Regions from separate parts of the Homo sapiens genome. Here all the other regions are linked to region 1. The links come from fine-mapping of genetic effects on gene expression. A gene starts in region 1. Each other region holds a variant in brackets. All regions are shown on one strand. Distances are between the middles of the regions. Region 1 holds the start of UBN1 (ubinuclein 1). Region 2 overlaps UBN1 (ubinuclein 1). Region 3 overlaps PPL (periplakin).

Evidence for each region.
Region 2: its variant is fine-mapped to the expression of UBN1 in whole blood (INTERVAL, PIP above 0.99).
Region 3: its variant is fine-mapped to the expression of UBN1 in whole blood (TOPMed, PIP above 0.99).

The regions. Positions count from the first base shown.
Region 1 is chr16:4,845,991-4,848,743 of GRCh38, reverse strand. UBN1 (ubinuclein 1) reads right to left here and starts at 1,263. Exons shown (of 18, transcript NM_001079514.3): 1 at 534-1,263. It overlaps GLYR1 (glyoxylate reductase 1 homolog), which reads left to right and starts at 1,456. Exons shown (of 16, transcript NM_032569.4): 1 at 1,456-1,516; 2 at 2,534-2,570. The coding sequence starts at 1,479. RefSeq lists silencers at 583-672, 683-1,402 and enhancers at 455-1,297, 1,593-1,652, 1,953-2,012.
Region 2 is chr16:4,870,952-4,873,704 of GRCh38, reverse strand. It overlaps UBN1 (ubinuclein 1), which reads right to left. Exons shown (of 18, transcript NM_001079514.3): 11 at 2,733-2,753; 12 at 2,404-2,550; 13 at 771-821; 14 at 632-674. Among named protein-coding and RNA genes, the nearest start is that of UBN1, 25 kb to the right of the region's middle. RefSeq lists a silencer at 2,722-2,753. The variant A/CA (reference allele first, on the strand shown) is at 1,228.
Region 3 is chr16:4,898,072-4,900,824 of GRCh38, reverse strand. PPL (periplakin) reads left to right here. Exons shown (of 22, transcript NM_002705.5): 7 at 1,441-1,602; 8 at 1,705-1,812. All of the region lies in intron 1 of LOC124903637 (a long non-coding RNA gene), which reads right to left. Among named protein-coding and RNA genes, the nearest start is that of PPL, 38 kb to the left of the region's middle. The variant C/A (reference allele first, on the strand shown) is at 1,298.

The DNA of each region.
Region 1 (2,753 bases):
TATGTTAAATTTTTATCAAATTATTCCCTGGAATCTTAAATACGCTTTAAAGATCACTTTGTCTTAAAAATACACACGCAGTAAATGACAGTCCGTGCAGCTAATTCTTGGTACTTCAGGGAAACTGATCTCCCAAGAAAAATCAGGCTGCGGGACGACCCAGTACGCTAAACACCGACTTGCAACCGAAATCTCTAACCACCACAATGCCTTGGGGAAATGCGTGTCGACTCGCCACCTTTGCCAGCTGGCAGTGACTCAACAAGAGCCCGACACCAAGTCTAAGTCAATCCTTAACACTGTGGAGTCTGTGATCGGGACTGGGATCTTTTGCAAAATTGTGATTCTACCTGGTCTGCTGAAGTTTGGGCCGACGCTGCGCTCAACTGCAGTTAACACTTCCCAGTTCATGGTTCAGTTTTAAAGTGTCCAAACTACGCCCGGCATCTGTCTTCCTGTTGTCACAACTTTTTCAAAAGTGCAAAACTAGGGCAAGGCTAACGAGAGAGCCCGGACCCGACAACGACACGCACCTTTGTCCCCAGCGCCGACGCGGGCCGCAGACGTCCCCCCGCGGCGGTCCTCATGCCGGTCCCCGGGCGGCGGCGCAGCTAGCGGTCGGCTGCTAAGCCGTGGCTCCCAGCGGGCGGGCGGCCCGCGCCTCGGCCCATGGCCGGGTCCCCGAGCCCAGGGGAGCCTGGTGTGCCGCGCCGCGCGCCGGCCCAGGAGGAAGCGAAGAAATGCCAACTCGACGTCCGCGCAGCCACTCCGGGGACACCAGGGGGTCGGGGGAGCAGCCTCCGGTCGCCCCAGGAGAACTTGCGGCGCGGGACCCCGCGCTCAGACGGCGCCTCCGAAAGCGGCCGTCGGGAGGAGCGCTCCAAAGAACACGGGCGGCGGGAGCGGACGGGCGCGGACACCGGGGCCTCCCGGCCTGCGGCCAAGCAGAGTTGCCGGGCGCGGGAGCCCAGACCCGGCGGAGGCTGAGTTCCAGGCCGCGCCGAGCTCCGTCAGGGTAGCTCACTGGCGCTGCGACGGGGCCGACCAGCGCCTCGGGCTCGGGAATGGCCCCGGGGCCCGCGCCGGACCAACGGGCGTAACGGAAGCGCCGAGAGGGGAGGGGCGCGGAGTCCAAGACCCGGGGGCGGGGCGAGCCGCGAGGCCGGCTCCCTCTCGCGCTCAGCCGGTCGCACCGTCGCCGCCGCCGCCGCCTCAGACCGCGGGCGCTTCGTTGTCACGAGCCGAAGGGAGGGGGAAGGAGCCGGGAGTCTCTGCGCTCCGGCGCGCGGAGACCGCGGCGCTCGCGTCACGTGCCCCTCGGTCGACCAATGATCCCCGGCGGGCGCGGTGACGTCAGAGTAGCGGCGTGGCCAGTGACAGCCGGCCCCCGTCACGTGGTCGGGCCCACTCCAATGGGCGGCGCCGGGGCGACTTGCTGTTCCCGGCGGCCCGTGCGTCGGCGGTGGTTGGGTGGTAAGATGGCGGCTGTGAGTCTGCGGCTCGGCGACTTGGTGTGGTGAGTCCGAGCGGCCGGGCCAACCGAGACGCGCCGGGGAGCTACCCGCCTGGGCGCGGGGTTCGCTGCCGGCCCTGGAGCTGCCTTTTTATGCGCTCCAGGTCGCGGAGAGAGGGGAAGAGAAGGTGCCGGCGCTTGCGAGCGGCGCCAGGCGGAAGGGGCAGTCCAGTCCCGGGGGACCGAGGCCGAGGGTGGCCACGTCGGGCACCGGCTTTGATCCCCGAGGCCGGCCGGGTGGGGTCTGCACTCGGGGCCCAGATACTGGCGGCCCCCGTGAAGGGAGCCGCCGGTGCCGCGAGGCTTCCCCGGACGACCGGTCCCCGGGGTCTTGTTGGGGCTTCCCAGAAAGCAGAAGCGCCGGGGACCGGACCTGCGAGATCTGGCCGGTGCCATTCGGTCAAAGCCCAGGTTGCGATGCAGCCGACCTGTGCGGCCGGCTCAGCCGGGGTTGTCTAAACCGGACTGCTGGCGTTGCCCCGCGAAGAAACGGCGGGGGGACTTCTCCTTTACAACCGATGGCTTGGCAGTGACCAGTGCACGCTTGGGTGCCTCCCGCGGTCTGCTTCTGTGTCCCAGACAACCGCCCGAACCAAGACTTTGTCGCCGCCTCCCTCGAGCTGCGTAGCTTGTTTCTCCACCCAGAGGAAGGCTTCCATTAGCATTTGTCAAAGCCAGGCAGGTCTCCTGTTGAATTAAACCAGACTTAGGGAGGGAAAGTCTGTGTTTACAGAGGAAGCTGTCCTCCCACCCCCGTCATTAAGAAGCTCTAGACAAGTGACTTTTGACAGTTGTGTTGTTCTGTATTCCTTGTCAACAGAAGAATGGATATGCGTTGTGCACATAAGTATACAATTTTGCATTTTACTTCTGAGGGTGTTGGGCCCAGCTATGAAAGCTTTTGTTTCGGCATTTGAGGATGCCAGCAGAGATTTAGGAAAATAAATTGCGTATTGAGTGGGTTGAAGGAGATGGACTGGCTTTTGCAGGGCAAGTGTTGACTCTTTGTGTTTTCTCTAGGGGGAAACTCGGCCGATATCCTCCTTGGCCAGGAAAGGTGAGTGTCTTGCTACTAAAGGAAGAGATCTGAAGTTGGGTTTGAAGAGGTGGAGAATGTAAGATGCATTCCTCTCAGTTTCTAGTATTGAGTTAAATTGGGCTCATTCAGATGGCACTTAGAATTTTTTTTCCCCTAGTATCGGTTATTTTTTAAAAGGCAATGCAGTATACACCAGATCAT
Region 2 (2,753 bases), 25 kb before region 1:
CCCTGGTGCTTAATACAGTGTGTCTGGGACATTGTGGGAGCTCAACAGATACTTAGGAGTAAATGATTTGCACATCTCATTCTCACGGTCTGCTTAGGGATGGCTAAGGGCACCACACTAAGAACTGGGAAAAATGTTGATAAACAGCAATTTTTACTACATTGAGAGGTTTCTGCAACATCTAAGGTAATTTTCACAGTGTCTATTCTCCAGCCACTATATTGCCCTCCATTTCTGCCTGGTAGCTCAGTAAAGTCGCCTTTTCTTTCTGCTGTGGCTCCAAGCTAAACTGCACTTGGCTAGAGTGTATTTCTTCCATACAAAGATCACAGTGTAACACGTTCACACCTTCAGGGACTACTGACTCCTCAGAGGGCTGCCAAGAAGATCCCACTTAATCCCACATGAACCCCAGGAACTGGGCCAGCTGGGTACTGTTTGTAGAACCAAGGCTAGAGGGGGGTTAAGTGGCTTGGGTCTCTGTCCTGTTATGACTTCAAGAATGTCATCCTGAGCAGCTGTCCCCAGACGAGCAAAGATCAATGAGCTTCCACAGTCACTTGACTGTTTCCAGAGCATAGTTGTAGGGAGATGGGCATAGCTGACATGTGACCCGAGCAAACTGACTCACCTTCACCTTGATTTTAGAAGGGGCCATAACTTTCTTCTTGGCCCTGTTCAAAGGAATGAGCACAGAAAAGTTTAGAGAATATCCAGAGGAGACCAAAAACAACACTTGTCCCGAGATGTGAAAATACCAAGACACTCACAGGATTGAAGTCAGGTGCCCATGGCCTCGTCTGCTCTCCTTAAACAGAGTTCTGAAAGACACAGAACACCAGGCATCTGTACATGCCCCAGAAAGCTGGGACTCTGCTTCCAGAACTTTGCTAGTGTCCCTGGTCCTCAGTAGCTATCCCTCATTAAATGTCAACTGGCCAGGCGCAGTGGCTCACGCCTGTAATCCCAGCACTTTTGGAGGCCAAGGCAGGTGGATCACCTGAGGTCAGGAGTTCGAGACCAGCCTGGCCAACATGGTGAAACCCCGTCTCTACTAAAAATACTAAAATTAGCCAGGCGTGGTGGCGCACGCCTGTAATCCCAGCTACTCGGGAGGCTGAGGCAGGAGATTCGCTCAAACCGGGGAGGCGGAGGTTGCAGTGAGCCGAGATCGTGCCATTGCACTCCAGTCTGGGCAACAGAGTGAGACTTTGTCCCCGCCCCCCC[A/CA]CCATGCCCACCCACCCCCCACACACACAAAAAAAAAGGTCAATGGATTGGGGAGCCAAATTCCTGGTGAGAGGATCTCAATGGGACACACTGGCTGCCCAAAGGCTGAGTCTGGCCTTTACCAAGAAAATGTATGGCTCTGCCTCAAACCTCTCATGGTGATGCTTCCCTAAAGGGCACAGCACTTTCCTTATTGCCTAGTCCCTCCATTCCAGGAATAAAATGTGGAGTGACCCAGCATGTCTTTGTCCAGAGAAACTCAACAAAAACGTTCTTCGTATGAGTCCAGCCTACGTAGAGAGGACAGCAATTTCAAAGGTTCCAAGATCTATCCGCACAACAGATGATTCGAGTCCAATCAAGAAAATCACTCCAGCTAACTTTCTCTGTCCCATGTATGACACAAATACTTCATTCGCAGGAAGTGACTTCGTACAAGGTAGCCTCTGAGATGGAAGCCTGGCACTTAGTTCCAATAAGGAGTCAGCCCTGCTACCTGCAAATGACACTTCTTCAGGAACATCAGGAAAGACCCAAGATGAACCCATCTCTCAAATGCTCATAGCAGCCTGTATGTTAAAACAGGAAGTGTGGCCGGGTGTGGTGGCTCACGCCTGTAATCCCAGCACTTAGGGAGGCCAAGGTGGGCAGATCACAAGGTCAGGAGATTGAGACCATCCTGGCTAACACGGTGAAACCCCATTTCTACTAAAAATACAAAAAATTAGCCGGGCATGGTGGCAGGCACCTGTAGTCCCAGCTACTCGGGAGGTTGAGGCAGGAGAACGGCGTGAACCTGGGAGGTGGAGCTTGCAGTGAGCTGAGATCATACCACTGCACTCCAGCCCAGGCAACAGAGCGAGACTCCATCTCAAAAAAAAAAAAAAAAAAAAAAAAAAAAGGAAAGTGCATATTGAGATGGGAGGCCAAACATCAACTGAAGTGGGACAAAAAATGACAAAAACAAAACCCTGGAGGCAACTTCCCTTCCTCCAGGGAAGATCCAGAAGACCCTTTCCCAGCTACCTGCATGTCCCCCAGTTACTCAGGTGAGATCAGAGTTGAGGCAGCTAGACAGTGACTCCCTGTGAGCAAGGATCCTGTTGGCCTGGCACAAAAGCAGCGTTCAAACGTGTCTTGACTGCACAGATGCCCATCTCAGCACACGGCCCTCACCTGGCCTGCATCCAGCCTTTGGGCCAGAGGGGCTTGACTTCCGCATCCAGAAAGCCCTTCACACAGTCCTCCCAAGCCTGGGCTTTGTTGTTCCTCTCCAGGTCCTGGCTCTCCAGTTTGATCTTCACCACCTGGCACAGTAGCTCCCTGAGAAGGAGGCAGAAATCAGAAACTCCAAACTACTTCAGATGCTGCTCCAAGGTTCCAATCATGTGCTTTCAGCAGCCCTGATGAAAGTAAATGAGCCTAACCTTTGTCAGCAATAGGGGACGTGCTCAGACACTGCCCCACCAACCCTCCAAAGAGGCCAAGTCCCAGTGTGGGCACACCTGATCTCATCATTCCATTGG
Region 3 (2,753 bases), 52 kb before region 1:
GAGCTCCCTGGGGGAAAGGCCTCATGGGGAGAGGAGAGGATGGGAAGCTTGGAGTCGGGGGGACAAGGATGTATTGTTTTAAAAATGACATAGGCAGCTGGGCATGGTGGCTCACGCCTAGCACTTTGGGAGGCAGAGGCAGGAGGATCACTTGAGCCCACGAGTTTGAGACCAACCTGGGCAACATAGTGAGACTCCAGCTCTACAAAACATTTAAAAATTAGCTGGGCTTGGTGGCATGCCTGTGGTCCCAGCTACTTGGGAGGCTGAAGTGGGAGGATCGCTTGAGCCCAGGAGGTGGAGGCTGCAATGAGCTGTGATCGTGCCACTCCACTCCAGCCTGGGAAACAGAGCAAAACCCTGCCTTTAAAAAAAAAAAAAAAAAAAAAAGGCGTGCAGTAAACGTTTCAATCAGGAGAGGGGTTGAGGCGGGAAGAGAGGTGCCCCAGCCTTTTCCTGAGCGGCTGCAAGGTCTGCCCTGGTTGTTCAGGGAAAACCCTAACAGGCCCCAGGGGTACAGCCTGTCCTGCTCATTTCTTTATTATCTGCTGTGTGCCAAGTATGATGCCACTTGCTTTCTATACAAAAGCTTTCCATTTTCCTTCCCAAACCTTTAAAGAATGCATTCTTTTAAAAATTGCATAAGTGTTATGCAAACGCTTCCTTGTTGCCAATGTTTCAGACAGAGAATACAGAGGCAGCATTGTGTCGCTATAAGGAGCCATGCTTCCTCTGCTCCTTAGTGTTAGTGGTGACACCTTGAGCGAGTTACTTAGCCTCCGGGAGCCTCAGTTTCCTCATCTGAGAAATGGAGCTCCTACATGTTCCTGTCTCATAGGGTCGCTTTGAGGATGAAATGAGTCAATGTTGCAGAAGTTCATCAGGCGTGGAGGGCCCCACGTACCAAAATGCAAACATCCCTCCTTTCCCTTGCACACCCGCTTCTCAGACGTACAGTGGTGCTTTCCTTCCAGCCCTCTATAAGACGATCATGATACAGATAAAAGTAGAAGCTATAGTTACTGATATTTGTTGAGCACCAACTATATGCCAGTCTCTGTACGCTGTGAGGTCAGGACTGTCATCTTCCCCATTTACAGATGGGCGAACTAAGCCTTCACAAAAATGTCAGTTCCGTAAGGGTTTTGTGTGTTTCGTTTGCTGTATCCCCAGTGTCTGGAGCCATGTCCAGCATGTAGTAGATGCTCAGTAAACATTTACTGAATGAATGAATGAATGAATGAATGAGTTTCAGGGGTTCAGGTGACTTGTCTAAGGGGGACTGGCCTGGACGTGG[C/A]TAAGCTGGGCTTGTCCTCAGGCCACCCATAGCTGGGCTTGTCCTCAGGCCAGCCATAGCTGGGCCCTGCAGGAGGTAGGGAAGGAAGCGAGCAGTGGCAGCGGGCTGAGGACGCAGCCCTTTCCTTGCCCCGGCCCCTTCAGGCAGCATCACAGGCCCGGCAGCAGCACCTGAGTTCGCTGCAGGACTACATGCAGCGCTGCACCAATGAGCTGTACTGGCTGGACCAGCAGGCCAAGGGCCGCATGCAGTACGACTGGAGTGACCGCAACCTCGACTACCCCAGCCGCCGGCGCCAGTATGAGGTGGGTTCTGGGGGCCTGGGGCATCAGGGAGGAGGCAGCCCTGGAAGGAGCACGGGACCGCCAGGCTGGGCACTGAGGCCCCTCCACTGCCCCCCACTGCAGAATTTCATCAACCGGAACCTGGAGGCCAAAGAGGAGAGAATCAACAAACTGCACAGCGAGGGCGACCAGCTGCTGGCGGCCGAGCACCCCGGGAGGAACTCCATTGAGGTTCATGCACCCCGAGACCAGACACCTCCCCCAGGGTGGCTTCTGGTTGGCCGCTGCCTGTGGGCCGCCTGGAGCTCGGGCAGACCCCGGAGCTGGGGGTCCTGCAAGCTGCATCTTGTGTCTGTCTGTCTCTTTCTTGCTGTGTCTGACTCTGCCTCCTCCATTTATCCTGATCCGTTGACACTTCTGCCCTCAGCCCCTGGACTTCTGAAGCCCCTGTGGGGTCTGTATTAGTTTCCTAGAGTTGCTGCAACAAGTTAAAACAAACTTAGTGGCTTTAAACAACAGAAATTCATTCTCTCAGAGGTCTGTGGGCTGTAAGTCTGAAATCAAGGTGTCTTAGGGCCTCATTCCCTCTGGAAGCTCCAGGACATGTGCCTTCCTTGCTCTTCCGGCTTCTGGGGGTTGCCAACAGCCCTTGGCTTGTGGCTGCATCATTCCAGTCCCTTCCTCCGTCTTCACATGGCCTTCTCTCCCCATGTCTCTCTGTATCCTCTCTTCTTATAAGGATATCAGTCAGTGGATTTAGGGCTCACCCTAATTTCAGGATCCTTAACTAATGACATCTGCAAAGATCTTATTCCCAAATAAGGTCGCATTCTTCCCAACCCCCACAATGCCACCAACCCCGCCTGAGATGGAGTTTCGCTGTTGTTGCCCAGGCTGGAGTGCGATGGTGTAATCTTGGCTCACTGCAACCTCCACCTCCCGGGTTCAAGCAATTCTCCTGCCTCAGCCTCCCAAGTAGCTGGGACTACAGGCGCACACCATCATGCCCAGCTAATTTTTGTATTTTTAGTAGAGACAGGGTCTCATCATGTGGGCCAGGCTAGTCTCAAACTCCTGACCTCAGGTGATCCACCCGCCTCGGCCTCCCAAAGTGCTGCGATTACAGGTGTGAGCCACCATGCCTGGCCAGGGTCATGGATTTGGTGGGACAC